Homo sapiens: one gene and its partners. The protein of the gene in region 2 purifies or fractionates together with the protein of the main gene of each other region. This does not show direct contact. Each region holds a gene or a part of one and is shown on either strand. Other genes may lie near its edges.

Evidence for each region.
Region 1: the proteins of TRAPPC9 (region 2) and LDAF1 purify together in Homo sapiens (co-immunoprecipitation; one large-scale study listed by IntAct). This does not show direct contact.
Region 3: the proteins of TRAPPC9 (region 2) and HTATIP2 fractionate together in Homo sapiens (co-fractionation; one large-scale study listed by BioGRID). This does not show direct contact.
Region 4: the proteins of TRAPPC9 (region 2) and RAB3IP purify together in Homo sapiens (tandem affinity purification; 2 studies listed by BioGRID and IntAct, with this or other methods). This does not show direct contact.
Region 5: the proteins of TRAPPC9 (region 2) and RAB3IL1 purify together in Homo sapiens (affinity purification with mass spectrometry, with the first as the bait; one large-scale study listed by BioGRID). This does not show direct contact.
Region 6: the proteins of TRAPPC9 (region 2) and C9orf40 purify together in Homo sapiens (co-immunoprecipitation; one large-scale study listed by IntAct). This does not show direct contact.

Annotation. Positions count from the first base shown.
Region 1 is NC_000016.10:21,178,381-21,181,172, reverse strand, and holds the end of LDAF1 (lipid droplet assembly factor 1), read right to left. Parts: exon of another isoform or gene 2,377-2,792; coding exon of another isoform or gene 2,361-2,376; exon of another isoform or gene 2,241-2,360; intron 1,699-2,240; coding exon 1,617-1,698; 3' UTR 557-1,616; downstream 1-556. UniProt on the Homo sapiens protein: Plays an important role in the formation of lipid droplets (LD) which are storage organelles at the center of lipid and energy homeostasis. In association with BSCL2/seipin, defines the sites of LD formation in the endoplasmic reticulum.
Region 2 is NC_000008.11:140,433,679-140,437,248, forward strand, and holds part of TRAPPC9 (trafficking protein particle complex subunit 9), read right to left. Parts: intron 1,563-3,570; coding exon 1,434-1,562; intron 1-1,433. UniProt on the Homo sapiens protein: Functions as an activator of NF-kappa-B through increased phosphorylation of the IKK complex. May function in neuronal cells differentiation. May play a role in vesicular transport from endoplasmic reticulum to Golgi.
Region 3 is NC_000011.10:20,380,653-20,384,291, reverse strand, and holds the end of HTATIP2 (protein HTATIP2), read right to left. Parts: intron 2,115-3,639; coding exon 2,053-2,114; intron 1,313-2,052; coding exon 1,087-1,312; 3' UTR 510-1,086; downstream 1-509. UniProt on the Homo sapiens protein: Represses translation by preventing reactivation of elongation factor eEF1A. May also inhibit nuclear import by competing with nuclear import substrates for binding to a subset of nuclear transport receptors.
Region 4 is NC_000012.12:69,759,319-69,762,888, forward strand, and holds part of RAB3IP (rab-3A-interacting protein isoform alpha 1), read left to right. Parts: intron 1-3,570. UniProt on the Homo sapiens protein: Guanine nucleotide exchange factor (GEF) which may activate RAB8A and RAB8B. Promotes the exchange of GDP to GTP, converting inactive GDP-bound Rab proteins into their active GTP-bound form.
Region 5 is NC_000011.10:61,907,549-61,911,118, forward strand, and holds part of RAB3IL1 (guanine nucleotide exchange factor for Rab-3A), read right to left. Parts: intron 759-3,570; coding exon 506-758; intron 113-505; coding exon 17-112; intron 1-16. UniProt on the Homo sapiens protein: Guanine nucleotide exchange factor (GEF) which may activate RAB3A, a GTPase that regulates synaptic vesicle exocytosis. Promotes the exchange of GDP to GTP, converting inactive GDP-bound Rab proteins into their active GTP-bound form.
Region 6 is NC_000009.12:74,946,013-74,949,912, forward strand, and holds the end of C9orf40 (uncharacterized protein C9orf40), read right to left. Parts: intron 2,195-3,900; coding exon 2,036-2,194; 3' UTR 571-2,035; downstream 1-570.

The DNA of each region.
Region 1 (2,792 bases), on a different chromosome or scaffold from region 2:
CTGTTTCTTGAATGGCCACCATCCCAGCCCTGTCCCATCTGCATATCCCATCCTCCTAGCCACCATGATTGGTCTGGGGTCGCTCACATGACCCAAGTCTATCCAATCAGAGCCAAACCCAGAATATTTGTATATACTGTTGGAAAAAAGCAGTTTTCTTGCCCAGGATGGAGCTCCTGGGACCTCCGAAAGGGGTGGCGGGCCTGCCTGCAAAAGCAGCTCACACTGAGGAAAGCTATACTGAGAGATGAGGGGTGAGAGATGCTTAATGACACCACCTGAGCCCCTGGAATCAGCAGCACCTCAAGATCTACCCCTTGGCTTTTTGGTTGAGTGAAACTAATCCTTCTCCCTACCACCCCTCTTTTTAAAGTAATGTGGAATTGGGTGTCTATTGCGAGCAACTAAAAAAATCCCTATTACCCAGCACCAGTCATGAAATCGACAGAGGAATAGGCAGGTCTGATGTATGGAGCAGAAGGGAAAAAGAGTAAAGAAAAAAAGCCCACCCAAATAAATATTTAATGAAATGCCACGCAAATAAACCACTCAGTAATTCCACTGGGAAATCCCATAGGAAGTTTTATTTTTACTTACTAGTCCTTTAGCATTTTTATTTTAAGAAATGGCTTAGGCTGGGCACAGTGGCTCACGCCTGTAATCCCAGCACTTTGGGAGGCCAAGGCAGGTGGAGCACCTGAGGTCAGGAGTTTGAGACTAGCCTGACCAACATGGTGAAACCCCATCTGTACTAAAAAAAATACAAAAAAAAACTAGCCGGGCACGGTGGCGGGTGCCTGTAATCCCAGCTACTTGGGAGGCTGAGGCACGAGACTCACTTGAACCTGGGAGTTGGAGGTTGCAGTGAGCCGAGACTGCACCATTGCACTCCAGCCTGGGCAACAAGAGGGAAACTCCGTCACAAAAAAAAAAAAAAAAAAAAAAGAAAGAAATTACTTAAAGGACAAGCTCTTTAGAACAATACAACAGTACCAAGTGCAAATATGTAAAAGATTAACAGTACTTAACAGTACTCAACAGTTACAGTGGAAACTACACCTTTAGACTTTTTTGAAAATACTCTTGGCCACAAAGTTACATTTGGACTCTATTTTCCAACTTGGAGAGGCCAAATGTTGCTGTTCTTTCTGATAAAAAGCAAATACCACAGAAGGGCTTGTTCTGTTTTGGATTTTTTTTTTCATTTTGTTTCACATGAGTGAAAAAATTAACAGCTGCCCTCATTTCTGAAAACAAAAAACTATAAACAATCACTGTTGCTCCCAATGGGACCGTTGGACATAAGCCCTGAGGCTTTGGGGTCAACGGGCTAGACTCTAGAAGCCCAGGACCCCGCCAAGGTCAAGTCTGCATACTTGGGGCAGGGCGAGCTGTTGAACCATCGCATTTCTCTGCTGCTTCTTTACATGGGAACCAACACAAGAACAACACAATCCCTAAATTGGCTGCTGCGGGATCCTACAAGTAAGTGAAAAAGCGAGAGGACACAGCCAAGGAGTGCTTGCCTACCCAGCCCCCTTCTTCTAAGCCATAATCCCAAGGGGTGAGTATGATCCAGCAGTACTTGAAAAGAAGCCCGGCCTCTGAGCAGTCACTCATTCCTGGTAAAGCCCCTCGAATTCTGCAGACTTCATGGCTGGCAGAAAGTCACAACTGGTGTTTTGCTGTGTCAGTGGCCTGTCGGATAACAAGAAGAGATCGTTAGCTCTAGGGCCTCAGTAAAGAGCAACGTTGGAAGTGTGCATAGCTGAATACATGATGTTCTTTTTCCTGATTTTTAGCTGCTTCTTGCAACCACACCAGGCCTATGTCCATTATACAGATGAAGAAACTGAGGGCACAGGAGGTTAAAATGACCAGGTTAGGAGTAGGGTTACGGCCCCTTTTCCATTTTCTAATTTGGATATTTATTATGTTTTTCTTAATTATCTGTGTCCTCACAACAACCCAGTGAGAATGGTAGATTAAGAGTAGCCATTTTGTCTATTTTACCAATGGACAAAAACTGAAATCAGAGAAGTCAAGCAGCCCGTTCAAGACCACACAGCTGAAAACATGGCAGGGCGGGGATTCAGACCATATCTTCTGATTTCAATTAGTTTCTTGACACCTTCCATGGAAAGGAGTTCGGGGGAGGATTGTATTAGTCCGTTCTTATGTTGCTAATAAAGACCTGAGACTGGGTAATTTATAAAGAAAAAGAGGTTTCATGGACTCACAATTCCACATGGCTGGGGAGGCCTCACAATCATGGTGGAAGGCAAAGGAAGATCAGAGGCACTTCTTACATGGCGGCAGGCAAGAGAGCATGTGCAGGGGAAATGCCCTTTATAAAACCATCAGATCTCGTGAGACCTACAATCAGGAGAACAGCAACCAGCGGCCATCTGACAAAGTTCTAGTCAATGAAGTCTTTTGAAGTATAGTGGTGAGAGGTCCTGGGAAATATTTTATTCACATTTTTAAAAGGGTCAGACTCCATTTTTTTCTCCTTTTCTGCTGCCTTGAAGGTAGCTGGTAGATCTGGAGCTGCAGCAGCTATCTTGTGGCCATAAGGTAGGAAACCAATGGGCTAAGGATAGCAACACAGGAAGGCAAAAGGTGCCTGGTATGTTGATACCACACTGGCTGCACCAGCCCTGGGCTGTCTCCAGTTTTTCATTAAGCAATAAAAAAAAGTTCCCTGTGTGTTTAAACTAGTATCTACTTTGGTTTTTTTCATTATTTGCCACCTAAACCATTCCTCCCTGATAACAAAAAACTAAGAAAGA
Region 2 (3,570 bases):
TCAAATCAACGTTTTTACTTTTCTCATCTATTACAGATACAGGAAAAAAATCAAAATTTTCTCAATCACAAAAAAGATAAGCCTGAGGCAGAAGAATAGGATCTAGAGGCAAAGAACTTAAGGTTGTTTCACACAGACTTCCTACAACTACATTGAAAGGAAAACCCTAACTTTCCATGACTAAGTAACAAAAGGACCAGAGGCTGCTCCCTTTGACCTTTTCTGCATGGCAGGTGGGAAACTGGCTGTCCGGAACCACTCAGACTGATTGCTGGTGGAGTCTTAGTTTGCAGAGAAGTATAACTTTGTCTACTTTTCATTTGCATAGAAGCATAACTTTGTAACTTCACCTTAGCCTCTGAGTGGCTGCTTTCCGCAACCAATCAGACTAACTGCAGGCTACCACTTCATTTACAAGAGGTGAGCATGAAGTGGCCAATGGGAAACTTCTAGTGGGTATTTAGACCCAAGAAGATTCTGTATCCGTGCCCTTGAGCCCGCTGCTCGGCCCACTCCCACACTGTGGAGTGTACTTTCGTTTTCAATAAATCCCTGCTTTCATTATTTTGTTGCTTCCTTCTTTGTGACCTATGCAACATGATGACTAAATCCTGAGCCATTAAAGGCAGGTTCATTCATCAAGGACCAAAACGTTCATGTTCATTCAGCATTCGTGGGTCTGCTCTACCCAAGAAGTTTTCTCACTCTTCATTGGTTCTACCAAGCATAAGCAAATCAAACAACTCATTGAGAGAATGTCATCAGCCAATAAAATAAGAAACTGCTCCCAGGCCCTGAATCAGCTTATTAAAATTGACCTCTGGGACTAGCTTCTCCTAATACATAAAATTATAAAAAAGACTTAGACACAGAACCTCAAGTCTGTTCTACCAGGAAATTTTACACAAGTATTCCAGAAATCAACCAATCATTCTAACCCATTAGTGGTATTCAGTAAGATTGAAAGTATTCAATAAAATCAGAACAAAATGTCTCATACAAGATTTCTGGGCAGGGCATGGTGGCTCACGCCTGTAATCCCAGCACTTTGGGAGGCCGAGGCGGGTGGATCACGAGGTCAAGCATTCGAGACCAGCCTGGCCAACATAGTGAAACCCCGCCTCTATTAAAAATACAAAAAATTAGCCATGTGTGGTGGCGGGCGCCTGTAATCCCAACTAGTCAGGAGGCTGAGGGAGGAGAATTGCTTGAACCTGGGAGGTGGAGGCTGTGGTGAGCCGAGATTGCGCCACTGCACTCCAGCCCGGGCAACAGTGCAAGACTCTGTCTCAAAAAAAAAAAAAAATTACTGACTCAACAGATTTTACAGTTTATTTAAATATTAGTCCTAACTCAAAGGAAAAAGTAACAAATGAGTCTGCTTTATTTAAAGACTGCAAGTGAGCAGAGGCCGGAAAAAGGGCAGAGCTCACCTGGCCGGTGTCTATTGGCTGCTTCAGCAGGAAGGGTGCTGCCCTGGAACCTCCGAGCTCCACTCTTCCCACCAGTTCCACCAGGATAGTGATAGATGACAGAAGCTGAACACAATCCTTCCAGGGCAGCTGGGCATTAAGAAAACAAAAAACAAAAACCAGAAAACAAAAAACAAAAACCAGCATCATTAGTCAAGTCAGTGACCCTTCATTAGCTCAAACTGCAGTAACTAACAATGATTTAAACAGGTGGATTATTTGGAAATGCCAATTTTTCTCCCAAAACAAAGATCAAACCTAAAGATCACTAGTTTTTTGCAAATGGGAACTTGCCACCTGTCTTTCCCATGCCCATGTCCAGGCAGGCAATGCAGAACACTCTCACCACACTCAAGGTTTCCCTGCAGGGCTGACTGCACACGTAAAACAGGCCAGCCTCTGCGTTCATCCATTCACGTGGCCGGCATTCCTGCACAAACTGTGTGGCAGACTGCGCCAGGTTCTGGAGCTACAGAGATGTATAACAGAAAGTGCCCTGGATTGAAAATATTTCACAGTAATAGCACCAAAGCAAGACCAGAATGCCTTTCCAGACCATGCACCCCATAGGCATCTGCTCCTTTTGAGGTTGTAGTCCTCCCTCTTCCTCAAAAACAGCCATATTAACTCGCTACACAGTCCGTTCTTCTCTCATGACGTAACAACCTAATAATCTCCAGCTATGCCACATGCCTTAGAAGGTGTGCCACAGTATTCATCTCTATCATCTTTATCCATTAACTCAGTGCTCCTTAAACTTTTGGTCTAAAAACTCCTTGATGCTCTTAAAAATGACTTAGGATCACAAAGAGCTTTTTTTGTGATGTGGGTTACACCTGTAGATATTTACCATATTGGAAAATAAAACTGAGAAAAGGATTTAAGTATTTATGTATTAATTCCTCTTAAAATAGGCCAGACGCAGTGGCTCATGCCAGTAATCCCAGCACTTTGGGAAGCCAAGGTGGGTGGATCACTTGAGGTCAGGAGTTCAAGACCAGCCTGGCCAACATGGTGAAACCCTGACTCTACTAAAAATACAAAAATTGGCCAGGCATGATAAAACACACCTGTAGCCCCAGCTACTCGGGAGGCTGAGGCAAGAGAATCGCTTGAACCTGGGAAATGGAAGTTTCAGTGAGCTGAAATCACGCCATTGCACTCCAGCCTGGGCGACAGAGTGAGACTGACTCAAAAAAATAAAAATAAAAAATAAAATAATAAGCTTGTCATGTGTTAACAGTTTTATGAAAAATAATTGTTTTCCAAAACAAAAATAAAGTACTGGAGGAATGGCATTATTTGACATGTTCACACATTTCTTTAATATCAGAGTTAATACAAGTCAGCTGGATCTTCTATCAGCTTCTACATTCAGTCTGCTGTGATGTCAGGCCTAAGTAGCTTGTGGACAACTCCACTGTCCACTTCTGAGAGGCTGAGCATGGAAGAGGCCCACGGCACACAGCACCGTCCTTCTCTGTGTGCCCTTTAGGAGCCCTCCTCATCCAGTCCAGCGCCGCATGGGGAAGGCATATGGGCAGTACCAGTCTTTCTGGAGAAGCACCTGCTGCACATGCCCTAGTCTCAGAGCCCACTGGGAGATGCACAGATTCTCTAATTGATACAATAAGGAGTACTTAGGGAGACAATGCTCTTTCAAGAAAACCAAGTAAAACTATGTCTTTCTCAGCCTGCATAATCCTTTATCTGATTCTCTTTTCTTTTCCATCCCTAATTCTTACTCCCTTTCTTTCCCCACTTCTATTTCCCTAGCCTCTTTAAAAAACTAAATTTAAGTCCATTTTAAGTTTTATTTTGGTTTTTTCTTAAGAGACAAAGTCTCACTCTTGCTCAGGATGGAGTGCAGTGGTGCGATCGTGGCTCACTGCAGCCTTGACCTCCTGAGCCCAAGCGATCCTCCTGCCTCACCCTCACAAGTAGCTGGGACTACAGGCACAGACCACCAAGCCCAGCTAATGTCTTTTTATTTTATTTTATTTTATTTTATTTTGGTAGAAGTGAGGTCTCCCTATGTTGCTCAGGCTGGTCTCCACCCAGTTAATGTTTTTTAATTTTGTTTTGTAGAAGTGAGGTG
Region 3 (3,639 bases), on a different chromosome or scaffold from region 2:
CATGAGCACTTTAAAGTTTGGTGGCATAGAATTTTACTGGCTATGTGAACATTTAGTAATTAATCACTAGAACAAAGGAGAAACCCAAATATTTCGATTTTGTTCATCCACAACATGTAGTAACAATCAACTGGAACTACCTGGAAATATACGGGAACAGAATGCTTTTGCAGGGTGCTTAAAAACACGATATATGGGATCTATGGGATCAGGCAGACCTGGGTTAGAATCCTGACTCTGCCATTTCTTTGCTTCAGTTCTTCAGATTTGGACTCTTGAGCAAGGCACTTAACCACAGTGAGCCTCATTTCCCCATCTAAGACATGAAGATCATGATAGTATCACTTTATAAGGATTGTTTATAAGAGGGTTAAAGCACAGATAACACATGTAAAGACTGGTACTTAGCAAGCATTTGGTAAATATTAGCTGCTATTATATCACCCCATAGGCTGAAATGCTGCATATCACACTACATGGGCATTTTCAAGCAATCTAAGAGGCACCCAGGAGTTGTCCATTCATCTTTATTCCTTTATTTAATCCTCCCCATGTATTATATAAGCTTAGGTATATAACTTCTATTACATAAAGAAGTAGTAAAGGCACAATGTTTACTTACACAATTACATGTAGTGAATTAGCACTTTTGTAACTCAGAGACATGAATGTCAACAATTTTAGAGCAGAGCTCATTTGCACGGTCATAAGGTTTTCATGGCTGCTGTGACTCTGCAGACAAGCATTTCAAAGCAGGCCCCCCAGCCAGTGGCATCGGAACCAGTGGCATCAGGGGAAGTATAAACAAAGAAAATTACAGATTATTGTGCCCACACCCCAGAAATTTTGATTCAAGTTTGAGATAGGGCTGACAAATCTTTATTTTTCCAAAGCTCCCTGAGTGATCTATATGTATAACCAGGCTCTGAACCACTGATGCAGAGCACCATCATTTCTTGATTGGAATGGATGCCTGAGGATAGTAAAACAACAAAGTTAAAACATGCTGACTTTTTTTAGACCCTGAAATTACCGATTTGGTGATGGGTGTTAAGGTTGACAATAAAAACCATTTCTCCAATGTGGTCATGGCTTGAGAGAGCCATGCGCTTTCCCCAGGTCATGGATGGCCTTGTTCTCCAGCAGTTCCATCTGCTTGTCTCTTGGTCTCACCACATTGTTCAGCATTGCTCTAACCACGGTCACCACAGGCACAGAATGCCCACTGGCCCAAGAGTCTGGTAAGGAGCCAAAGAACTTTCTAACCAGCCATTCACCTGGGCGAGATTCTTGCCTATCACATAACAGAACTCTAAAATAAAAAAAAAAAAAAAAGAAAGAAAAGCAGAGGAAGAGGTGGTAAATTGCACTGAGACCACAGTGGGCATTACGGACAAAACTGTATCCCCTCAATATTCTAATGTTGAAGCCCTAATCCCCAAGGTGTCTATATTTGAAGATAAGGCATTAAGGGAAGTAATTAAGTTTAATGAGGTCTTAAGGATGGAATAGGACTAGTGTGATGGGACTGGGGTCCTCATAAGAGGAAGAGACATCAGAGGTCTCTCTCTGTCTGCATACACTAAGAAGAAAGGCCATGTGAGGACACTGCCAGAAGGTGGTCTGTCTGCCAGCCAGGAAAAGAGGCCTCACCGGACACCAACCCTGAGGGCACCTTGATCTTGGACTTCCAATCTCCAGACTGCGTGAAAAAAAATTTCTGTTGTTTAAGACACCCAATCTGTGTGGTATTCTGTTATGGCAACCCAAGCAGACTAATACAGTAGACGTAAGGTTTTATTTGGCACATGAAGAGGATTTAAGAAGGCAGCAAATGCTGTCCAGGAAGTTCCAGACTATTCTGAAGCAGGCCCCACCATCTACCCTTTCTTTCTAAGCAAAAAGGTGTGTCCTTCAGAGAAGCAATCTACCTCTAGCCAATGTCTTTCATATCTTAGATATTTCAGCTGTCAGCCTTTCCAAATGAAAAATTAGTATCTAGGGATTAACCATCAGTGGCATACTCTCATTCAGTATAAATATTATACTTACCCAGGCCTAAATACAGAGTAACGATCAAATTTTAATTCTTCAACCTTGGCTTCTACTTCTCCCTATTAAGAAAAAACACATTTTCAGTATTTAATCGCGACCAGCTCACCTGTGTGAAGTTTAAGAGAGAATAATTTGTGGTTTTGAGATAATCTGCTTTTGCAGATCTCAATACTCAAAATATCCTTATCTAGAATTTTAGGTTCCAAGGAGTCTGGGAAATTAAGGAAGAGATCATTTAATCCTGATGTGTAGTCTTTCATTTAAAAGATCCACTAAATGAGTGAATGGCTGCATAGTCAGTCCTCTCACTTTATTGATATTAAAACAGATTCAGAGAGGGTAAGTCATACGTTAGTACAATCATAAAAGAATATCCTCTATTTAGTCCAGAATTCATGTTGCATGCTAGCAGACACTAACGTTTTTTTGGTTTATAGGTAGTTCCAGTGGGTCAGAAAACCATAGACCCACTATATTACTCACTTCTTAAACCTCACAAAATTTTAAGACAGATTACATCTAGATGATGCTTTAAATCTAATTTGTTAAATAAAGCATGCATTTTCATGGCAGGCATCTCTGGAAACAAAATGCCTGAGGAGCTCAGCCCACAGGCACTTCCAAAGGCCTGTGAACTACCACACGGTCATGCACGCCTCCTTCTTGGCCTGTGTGTACCACTCAATTGGCACTTAACCTGTCTCATCACAGACATTTAAGTAGCTATTTTTAAATATCTTTTTCTTTTTAAAAATTTTTTAATTTTAATTATTTATTTATTTATGTATTTTTTGTGTGTGATAGAGTCTCACCATGTCACCTAGGCTGAAGTGCAAGGGCATGATCTTGGCTCACTGCAACTTCCACCTCCCAGGTTCAAGCAATTCTCCTGCCTCGGCCTCCCAAGTAGCTGGGATTACAGGCATCCGCCATTATGCCTGGCTAATTTTTGTATTTTTAGTAGTGACGGGGTTGTCACCATGTTGACCAGGCTGGTCTCGAACTCCTGACCTCAAGTGATCCACCCGCCTCAGCCTCCCAAAGTGCTGGGATTACAGGCGAGAGCCACCGCGCTTGGCCATTCTTTTTTTTTTAATAGGTGGTTTTTAGTATATACACAGAACTCTGTAACCTTCATCACGATCTAAGTTTTAAAATATTTCATCACCCTGAAAAGAAATCCCATATCATTAGCAGTCACTCCTCGTACCCTACCCTCTGGGGACCTAGTCAACCACTAATGTACCTTCTATCTCTATAGATTTGCCTATTCTGGACATTTCATATAAATGAAATCATATAATTCGTGGTCTTTTGTGACTGTCTCCTCACACTTAGCATAATATTTTCAAGGTTCACCCATGTTGTAGTATGTATCATTTCTTTTTATAGCTGAATAATATTCTATTGCATGAATATATCACATTTTATTCATCTATTCATCAGTCGATGGCTATCTAGGTTGTTCCCACTCTTTGGCCATTATAAATAATGCTGCTATGAACAGTCATACACAAGATTTTATGTGTACACACATTTCTTAGCTTTTTTTTTTTTTTTTTTTTGAGATGGAGTCTCACTCTG
Region 4 (3,570 bases), on a different chromosome or scaffold from region 2:
CAGCATCCCAAGGCAGAAGAATTTTTCTTAGTACAGAACAAAATGAAGTCTCCTATGTCTACTTCTTTCTACACAGACACAGCAACAATCTGATTTCTCTATCTTTTCCCCACCTTTCCCCCTTTTCTATTCCACAAAACCGCCATCGTCATCATGGCCCGTTCTCAATGAGCTGTTGGGTACACCTCCCAGACGGGGTGGTGGCCGGGCAGAGGAGCTCCTCACTTCCCAGAAGGGGCGGCCGGGCAGAGGCGCCTCCGACCTCCCGGACGGGGCGGCGGCCGGGCGGAGGCGCCCCCCACCTCCCTCCTGGACGGGGCGGCTGGCTGGGCGGGGGCTGAACCCCCACCTCCCGGACGGGGCGGCTGGCCGGGCAGGGGCTGACCCCCCACCTCCCTCCCGGACGGGGCGGCTGCCGGGCGGGGGCTGACCCCCCACCTCCCTCCCGGATGGGGCGGCTGGCCGGGCGGGGGCTGACCTCCCACCTCCCTCCCGGACGGGGCGGCTGCCGGGCGGAGGGGCTCCTCACTTCTCAGACGGGGCTGCCGGGCAGAGACGCTCCTCACCTCCCAGACGGGGTCGCGGCTGGACAGAGGCGCTCCCCACATCTCAGACGATGGGTGGCCGGGCAGAGACGCTCCTCACTTCCCAGACGGGGTGGCGGCCGGGCAGAGGCTGCAATCTCGTCACTTTGGGAGGCCAAGGCAGGCGGCTGGGAGGTGGAGGTTGTAGCTAGCCGAGATCATGCCACTGCACTCCAGCCTGGGCAACATTGAGCCCTGAGTGAATGAGACTCCGTCTGCAATCCCGGCACCTCGGGAGGCCGAGGCTGGCGGATCACTCACGGTTAGGAGCTGGAGACCAGCCCGGCCAACACAGCGAAACCCCGTCTCCACCAAAAAAATACGAAAACCAGTCAGGCGTGGCGGCGTGCGCCTGCAATAGCAGGCACTCGGCAGGCTGAGGCAGGAGAATCAGGCAGGGAGGTTGCAGTGAGCCAAGATGGCAGCAGTACAGTCCAGCTTTGGCTCGGCATCAGAGGGAGACCGTGGAAAGAGAGGGCGAGGGAGACCGTGGGGAGAGGGAGAGGGAGACTGTGGGGAGAGGGAGAGGGAGAGGGAGAGCCTCCAACTCTCCTCTTGCTCAGGATCCGTTTGGGGACTTGCTCTGTGTGTTCATTCCTTTGGTATTCATTTCTTCATGTGGATCCAGATTTCCAACTCGTATCATTTTTCCTTTGGCTTGAAGGACATCCTTTTACATTTTTGTTGTGCATGTTTGATGGTGATAAATTCTTTTAGCTTTTGTATGTCTGTGTTCATTTTTGGTTTTTGAAAGATATTTTCACTGAGTAAAGAATTTAAGATTGATAATTTTTTTTTTTTTGTTACTGTAAAGATGTTGCTTCAGTGTTTTCAAGCATGTACATTGTTTCTCACAAGAAGTCTGCTGTTACCCTTACCTTTGTTCCTCTGCGTATTAGGTCTTTTCTCTCTGGCTGCTTATGAGAGTCCTCTCTCACTGGCATAAGCAATGTGATTGTGATTTGCTTTGGTGTAGTTTCTTCAGCTTTCTTATGTTTGGGATTTATTGAGCTTCTTGAAGCTGTAGGTTGTTAGTTTTCATAAAATTTGGGAAATTTTGGCCTTTATATCTTCAAAAAGTTTTCCATTCTTCCTCTCTCTCTCCTTTCCTCTGGATTCCTATTACATGTACATTAGACTGCTTAAACTTATCTCACAGCTTGCTGGTGTTACAGTCTTTCATTTAAAAATCTTTTTTTCCTCACTGTGTTTCATTGTGGGTAGTTTCTATTGCTATGTCTTCAAAGTCACTACTCTTTTCTTCTGAAATATCTAATCTGTTAATCCCATACAGTATGTTTTTAAACTAGACATTGTAGTTTTCATCTCTGAAAGTTTGATTTGGATCTTTTTTATACTTTGCTTGCTCTGCTTAATATGTTGGGATGCAGTTTAATAAATGTTTTGTTTCTAATTATTTCATCTCTTCAGATAATAAGCTGGGGCAGATCTGGGGTGCACATTTTGTTTTTCATTTCTAGGGGATCACTGTCTTTTATTGCCTAATATCAAATGCTTCAAATTGTTGATCCATATATTTTTTCAGAGTTTTAGTTGTGTCAGATGGGTGGTAAATCTAATCCCTGTTCCTCTATCTTAATTGGAAGTGAAAGTTCTACTTACTCATTTATATTACTTCATTGTCTACCCCATTCAAGTAATCCACATAGAAAAACCTGCATTTATACACACATGCTTCAGTACTTCTGAGATTCATGAGGATAAGGATTGCATATGTTTGTGCTCATGATTATATCTTGAGCATATAATGGGTTTTCAATACATTTTGTTGATTAAATGAATATATACATGTATATGCGGTTATACAAGTGTTTGTATACACACATGCCTGATATATTAGGGTGATGCTTATAAGTAACCCCCAAATTTTCGTGACTTTACCTAATAGAAGTTCATTTTTATTCATTTAACACTCTGAAGCAGATGTTCATAGTTGGTAGGCAGTTCTCTGTGAAATAATTCAGAGATCTGTTTCTCTTCTGTTTGGGGCCTTTGTAATTTCTTAGGGTTTTATTGTTATTTGTATCTAACCAATGAGACAAAAGGGAAAGACAGCTTAGAGAAGGTACAGCTTCTTCTAAAAAACCTTGGCTTAGATATGATACACATCACTTTTGCTCACATTCTATTGGTGTGAACCTTTCATGCCAATACCTAGATGTATGGTGGGCTGGGTAATGTAATCCCTGGATGGACAACCACTTCCCAGCAACAAATCCATACTGTGTGTGTAGGGGGACCAATCATGTGGTCACTTATTTTCAGGTGCAGGGATGCCAGAGATTATGATGTAGTCATTTAGCTGTTTGGCCTTCCATAGGATATTTCTGAAGAGCAGCTTTTAGTGGAATTCTCAGGAGGAAATTGGGCTTTAGTGCATTCTTATTAAGTATAGATCCTTGCACTCTACTCCAGATCTGCTGAAATCAAATTATTGTGTTGAGGTTTGGGAATATGCATTTTCATCAAACTTGTTGATTCTTACATTCACTAAAAGGTGAAATCTGCTGTAAGAGGTTATTTTAAACTTTTATTTTTCTTAAAAGAAAATGAGCTGGGCGAAGTGGCTCACGCCTGTAGTCCCAGCACTTTGGGAGGCCGAGGCGGGCAGATCACCAGGTTAGGAGATCGAGACCATCCTGGCTAACACGGTGAAACCGCTTCTCTACTAAAAATACAAAAAATTAGCCAGGTGTGGTGGCAGACGCCTGTAGTCCCAGCTGCTTGGGAGGCTGAGGCAGGAGACTGGCGTGAACCCAGGAGGTGGAGCTTGCAGTGAGCTGAGATTGCGCCACTGCACTCCAGCCTAGGCAACAGAGGGAGACTCCGTCTCAAAAAAAAAAAAAAAAAAAAAAAGAAAAAAGAGAAAAAGAGAAAAAGAAAAAGAAAATGAAATGACTTAGAAAATAAAGCCCAGTAGGATAGCTTGCAAAGAGAGTCATTGAAAATCACATACTTGCACTAA
Region 5 (3,570 bases), on a different chromosome or scaffold from region 2:
CGCCCAGCCGGTGTACCTCAAACAGGCTGGCCGTCAGCTCTTCCAGCTCCTGTTCTAGCTGCTCCCGCACCTTGGACAGCCGCTCACATTCCTCGTCCTTTAGCTTCAGCTCCTGGAGGAAAAGAGGCAGGCACTTGAGCACCTCAGCATCCCCAGGCCTGGCACGGGAGGGACCAGGCCCACCGGACCAGGTTCCATCCCCTCGTCATTTTATGTGGGGCTCAGAGTTTATTTCCTCTGGTGCCTGACAGTTTGTGATGCTTTTTCCGTTTAGCCACAGCATGAAGCTGAAGCCCTGCCTGCCAGTTCATCAGAGCTCAGGGCACGTTTGCAGTCAAGACGGGTGACCATCGGTGCGCCCAGTACAGGCCTGGCCAGCAGCTGGCCTCGGTGAGGGCACATCCCTCTCCCTTGGGCACATCTCTGGGCACCTGATGAGAGCCCACAGCTCTCCCAACCTGACTTCTCCCCACCGAAGACCCCCCAGCCTACTGCAGGCACCCACCTTCTGCGCTCTGTGCAGCTCCTCCTTCAGGAACTCGGAGCCCTTCTCTCGGATCTCCATGGAAGAGCTGCGCAGGCGCAACACGTCCAGCTGGGCGGCTGCGGGGCCCTCCTGGCCTTGGGCCTCCTCCCCTGCAGAGGTCTCCACCAGGGCTCCTGGGGACTCCCTGTGGCCTTGGCAGGGGTCCGTGCTCTTCCAGGGGACCGGGACAGCTGCAAGGGGCGGCGGGAGGCCCTGGTCTGGCTGGGGTGGGCTGGAGACAAACAAGGGTATCAGCAGGTTCAGGGTGGGGTCCTGAGGCCTGGAGAGCTGAGTCCAGAAACCGCCCCGGGGCAATGTGCCTGCCACTTGAGCCTCAGCCTTTCCATCTGAAAACTGGGACCCTACCAGCTATCATCAGTGTTGTTACAAGGGCAAATGTCCAAGCACAAAGTCTCTTGGGGCAAGAGGCTTATTACTCTTTGTCAACCACCCCTTCCAGCCCAGGGCTGAGGGCTGTGTTTGGCACATGCAGTAGGTGCTCAGCACACAGTAGGTGGTCAGCGTCTTTGTCTAACAGGTGACTGTAAATGCATCAGGGTTGAGTCCCACTTGTATTAAGTGAAGCCTATTCCAATGGCCCTACCTCAAAGGTCACTGAATGATCAGAGGAGGTGTGGGTAAAACCTTGACACCTCGGATGCACTCAAGCAGGAGCTGCCTTCACTGATACAGTTAATGCGAATTCTGCCCCTTTCAGGGTGGACCAGAGAGGAAGGATGAGGCCAGGGCAGGCAGGGCTGAGGCAGGAAGATTCTGCAAACAGCTTGGACAAGACAGACCCACTTCCTGTCCCCCTGGACTTGGTGGGGAGCAGTCCCAGCTCTCCCCTGGCCTGCCTTGTGACCTCAGGCAAACACCCCCTTCTCTGGGCCTCAGGACCCTCCCTTCCCTGAAGCTGAAGACCCTGGAGGTGGTGTGAGGCCTCATTCCGCCCCCACCCACACTCTCCACTCCAAAGTGGACCCTGGAGAGGGAAGGGAGGGCGAGGGCCCGGCCAGCGGTGTTTTGTGCCAAGACAGCACCTCTGGACTCGCTCACTCAGCAAAAGCTGGAGGCTCCTGAGCCAGCAGCTTCTGAGCCGCAGCAACCAGGGCTGGGGATGGGGGGCTGGGCGGGCCACTGATATCAGTGAGGGAAGTTGGGGGGAGGGGCTCAGGGAGGCTGCACCAGAGGGGGAAGGCAAGGCCAAGGAGAAAGTGGGACTCAGGACGGCTGAGGCAGAGGGAGGAGTGAGAGGCAAGTCTGTGGACCAGTCTCCCCTCCCTGTCCTCAGGACCTTGGGAAGGTCACCAAGCAGCCCCTGAGCCTCAGTTTCTCCCTTGGTTAACACACAGAAAATGGGCCCCCAGAGACTCCTGCAAGGAGCCCACTTCCAGCAATGAGTCCCTTCACACAGCCCGGTCCAGCTGCCCAGCCCCACCTGCCCTCTGCTCTGGAACCGGCCCAGAGTGTGGCCTCAAGGCTCCTCAAGCTGGGTCCTGCCTGGCAGGGATGTGGGTCTTGAGGATTAAGGTGGGGACACATATCCATCACTCCATCAACAGTGTCTATGCCAGACAGGGCTCTCTCCTAATACTCCTGTTTGGGGAAGTCTTGTTGGCAAGGGTTCCCCGCAGCCTGAGAGCTATGGCGGAGCCCTGGGCTGGGGTCTGTGCCCTGGGGACTCACTCTGCCAGACTCTTCCACAGGTCTCTGACCACGCTGTCTCCTTTAAAATTCTCTCAACAGCAGCTGGGTGCAGTGGCTCACGCCTGTAATCCCAGCACTTTGGGAGGCTGAGGCAGGTGGATCACCTGAGGTCAAGAGTTCGAGACCAGCCTGGTCAACATGGTGAAACCCCATCTCTGCTAAAAATACAAAAATTAGCCGGGCCAAGATTGTGCCACTGCACTCCAGCCTGGGTGACAGAGCGAAACTCTGTCTCAAAACAAACAAACAAACATAAAACTCTCTCAACAGCACTCGTGGTATTGTCCCATTCTACAGATGAGGGGACGGAGGCTCACAGAGTGAAGGGACTTGTCAGGGGTCACGCAGCTGGTCAGTGACAGTGCTGGGACAGGTGGCCAGGTCTTCAAGCCCAGGCCCAAAGCTTCCCCGCTGCAGGGGAAGGGCAGGTGGGTGCGGAGTGTGAGTGTTGGAATCGGCGCATCTGCTTCAAGATAAAGCGCTGCTGGGCCCAGGGAGACTCGGAGGCTCCTCTTTGGCTGCAGTAGGGAAATCTGACCCAATTCTGGCCCGAACTGGCTTCTCAGACTCTGCGCAGGCCCAGAAACCCCCTTTCCAGAAGGCAGGGCCTGGGCAGGGGGAGCTGTGGCAGAGAGAACAGGCCAGATGGGGCAAGCCTGGGGTCCATGTCAGCCTCTGACCTGGGGTACACATGAGCCCCTGAGAATGCTACTGAAATTTTCTGAACCTGCTTCTGCACCTGAGGGATAGGAGCTGAAATCCTGCAGGAGGTGCTCTAAGAATCAAGAGCTCTAAGAGCAGTCCTGACCTGGTGCTGGGTGAATCATGTTCAATCCACAGCCATGTTTGGCTGAGACACTCACGAAGCCTGCCTGGGCTCTGGGTCCCACAGCTTAAACTGGAGGCCTGTGGACCCTTGCCAAGAAGACTTCCCCGAACAAGGGTATTGAGAGCCCTGTCTGGCACAGACACTGTTGATGGAGTGATGGATATGTGTCCCCACCTTAATCATCATGGCCCAAGTCCTCAGGTAGGACAGGATGGCCATAGTCACTCAGGCTGGGCTGGGGGCTGCTCACTGCAGGCCAAGGGCAAGAGGTGACAGCACAGGACAGGACAGAGGACTCTTGCAATTGCCTATGCCCTGACCGAGGAGAACCAGGCTGCCGGCCCTCCCATGGGGGCCGAGCTTCATCCACCAGTGTGGTCTGGGCCTCTGGCCACAGTGAAAGACTAACTCTCTCTCCTGCTGGTCCCAAGCACATAGGCTGGAGGTGTGGCTGGCTGACCTCACCATTTTCCCAACAGGCTCTCATTTTTGCCTTGTGGGGCAG
Region 6 (3,900 bases), on a different chromosome or scaffold from region 2:
TCTGAAGTCATTCTTTCCATGTCCTCAAAATCACACAAGAGAATTTTATCAATGTTAATTTCCTGATTTTCATAAGTGTACTGTGGTAATTTAAGATGTTACATTAGGGAATTGGGGTGAAGGGTTATAACACATTTAAAAACCCACATTTTACCTCAATTTATCCACAATGAAATTTTGCTGTTACCTCAAGTTTACTTAGTAAACAACTTTTTTAAAGGACGGAATTATTTTAACTCTTTCTGTTTTCTATATATAGACTGCCCCTGACTTGATGGTTTGACAGGATTTTTCAGCTTTACCACAGTGTGAAAGTGATATAAATTTAGTACATTTAACTAACCATGGGGTTATGTCCTGATAAACCCATCGTAAGTTGAAAATATCATAAGCTGAAAGTTTCAATTCCAATTTCTATCCTGAAACTTCTAGAGGCAGTTAAAACTTTAACTATAGGCAGCATGTTTATTCTAATGATTTTTTTTAACCTACCTTAAGGTTATTATGAGAACTAAACAAGATGATGCAAGTAAAGTACTTATAACATTGCTTGACAATAAACAGTCTCTCTGAGGTAGATACTATTTATTATTTCTCATTTTACAGGTGAGAAATTTGAGGCTTGGAGATGAAAAATAACTGGCTTAAAGATACATAGGTAGGAAGTGGCAGTACAAGACTTTGAACCATGTCTGACCACAATGCAATACAGTTTGTCTTCTGTTCTAAAGCATTCTTATTAATGTCAACCCATTCTTAAATCCTTCATTACACAAAAAAAATCAAGTTTTTCTCTTTCCCTCTCAATGGCATTTACCATTTGTCTTGAATTTTGGATCTAATGTCATCAACAACAAAAAATGCAAGCAAGAACCAGTTACTCAATTGCAAAACCAACATTCTGGATGCAGTACAAAAGTTAGTTAACTTAATCACTGATACTCACATCACAAATTGCTTACTTTATTTCTTTAACAATGAAATAGTAATAACACAATAATTCAGTTGTAACAAAGCCACCAACAGAGCAAAACAAAAACAAAGCTAATTAAGAAGCATTGCTTCAGCTCAAATTAGTTATCTCCTTTAAACAGGAAAAACGACCATTAGTCTACTGGTTCTCAACCCTGTCTGCACATGAGAGGAATGGAGGGAAACAGGACAGGTGTTTAAAAAAATAGTTATATCCAAGACCCACCTCAGAACTATTAAATGAGAATCTCTCAAGAGTGAGGCCCAGGCAAAGATTTTTAAAGTGCTGTCAGTGTTGAAAACTACAGGTCTAAAGTAATAAGGAATAAAACCATGCCTCGAAGCAATTCAAAACCAAGAAGCTGATTATACAATAAATTTTTTCCTCTAATCCTGGGAAAACAGGGGGAAGCAGGCACCGATTCAGTTTTCATTTTTCTTTATCCATCTTCAGTTGCCCATAGTAGAGCTTAACCAACATCAAATATTGGAAGCTTTGCAAACACGCTACCCAAATTGAAATTATCACTACTTTACATTTAGAAAGCTCTTTTAAAACAATAGCTTTTACAACAATCCCGCCCATCTTAAGTTTGCATAGATGTTCAAGTCAGCTATTTGTTCAACTAACAGAGTCAATAGAATGTATTAGAAAGTACTTTATTAACAAGTTATTATAAAACAATATTCATTTTATATACCACAAATAAACTTTTTGGTGCAGATAGGAGGAATATTTGAGTTTTTCCCACCTATTTCTAAAACTGCTAGAATTTCTTTTTATAAGATCAGTACCTTCAATTCTAGAATTTAAACAAAACTTTTTGCTCTAAGAATGCATACATAAAATACTTCCCCTACAACTGTACTCTATCCTTGACAAATCCTTATTAAGAGGTTCAGTAGTAACTGTAGGTATTTAATGTCAGAACAATCTTTCTTCATTTCTCAGGTTTGGAAATATAACTTCAAGTATGGAAAATAACTTTTCCCTTAAGAATACGAGAATTCACTTAGAGACATCTCCTCAAATCAGCCAATCCCACTGCTTCGGCTCCTTACATCAGGACTCCATGTCAACCTCAGCCCCTTCATTCCTGCCCTGAAGTGTTGCTTCTGTCAGGGTGTCTTCACTTAAATCTTCAATGTCTGCCAGATCAATAGGAGGCAAAGGATTCCTCCAGTACTGGAAGGTATTATACTGCCAAAATTCTTCATTGTGCTTTAGAGAAAAAAGAGAGATCAAAGAGCATCAATAGCTTAGAAAAAATTAAGTTTTTTTCAGAAAACAAATTTGTTTTAAAGGCAAACTCATATAAGATTTTGTAATCTTCTATTTTGTATTTTTAACAAATATACATTTTAAATTTTGTCTCATCTAAGTACTTCATGTACTCGATGAAATCTGTGCATTTTAATATTTACAATTTGTGAAAGTATTTGTTAAATTTAAAGGAATTTCCTCCAAGAGCATCTCTTTCCACAGTTTTTCTCCCATTTTTCACCTAAAGAAAATTATCTAAAAAGTCTTAAAATTTTTTATCTTTCAAGAAGGAAAAGAAGAATTTATTTTAAAAATACAAACACAGACACACTCCTTATAACTTACTTTTGGTCTTGTTCTTAAGGTCTGGTATTTTAGGAGATTTACTTTACATAGGCCAAAATATTTTGAAATCTTCCAAAAAGTATTAGGTTATAAACATGACGAATAGCAAGAAAATGTTAAACTGATCATTTTATTAAAGATAAAAAAAAAATCAATGCTCAGTAGCCACATGACCTAGTGGCTACTGTGCTGGACAGCACAGGTCTGTAAGAAAGTCTCATTAGGAAGTTCACTGTCTTCTATGCTGAGCCTTAAAGAATTAAGTTTTGGGGGAATTTCTTAATATTGGGATAAACACACAATAAGTCAAAAGATATTAAGAAAAATTTCACTTTAATATTTTGGAAAATCTACTGTACAAATTATCTACTTATAAACATGGACCAAAAAAAGGTCTTTTAATTATGTTAGTAAAACATAGTGACTAAGGGCACACAAACTTTGCCACCAGACAGACCTGGGTTTGCAAGATAACTCCACCGCCCACTAACTCTGATCTTGACCTTATTGATAAAATGGAGGACTGTTGTAAAAATTCAGGCTTGGCATAGTAATTGCTCAATATTGCTAGGTATTATATCCCAATAAGCCTATGAATCATTAATCACTGTCTCCTTAGAGCATTTCTGCTTACTTTCTGTTAAGAATATCTAACAGTTGGCTGGGCATGATTACACCTGTAATCCCAGCACTTTGGGAGGCAGAAGGATCGCTTGAGCCCCAGAGTTTGAGACCAGCCCTGGCAACAAAGCAAGACTCCATCTCAATTTATGAAAAACAAACAAATAAACAAGAAACTAACAGTTAACACTGACAGAGCAGTGAATCTACATAGTGACACTAACATGAAAAAAATACATGAATATTTAATGAATACCTGATTTTATTTCTGTAGTCAAAAAACATCTGAAACAGGAAATACCCTGAAGTTCCGGGACAGAAATGACGTAACATTATCCTGCCTAGATTGTATTCTCAATGTAGAAAAAAGGTATTTGAGGTAGTATTTCCTAAATGAAGTCCCAAGGGTGAGGGCTGGGACTTAAGCCCTATTCTGAGCACAAAAGAAACCAGGCATTTACTGTATTGAACTGTTTACTTCTTTTTGTTATATTCAATTTTCCCTTGGTAATCAGGTATAAAATCCTTAAAACAAAAAGCCTGTGTCTTTGGAGGCAGGAAGGAGAAACAGAAGCTGGAGAGAGCATGATTGTAAAAGAGAAGCGCCTCCAGAACAAATCTAACAAAAAGAAGGAATAGGAGTGTTACTGGGCTTTCCTCAAAAGAGGGCCTGACAGTGGCTCACGCCTGTAATCCCA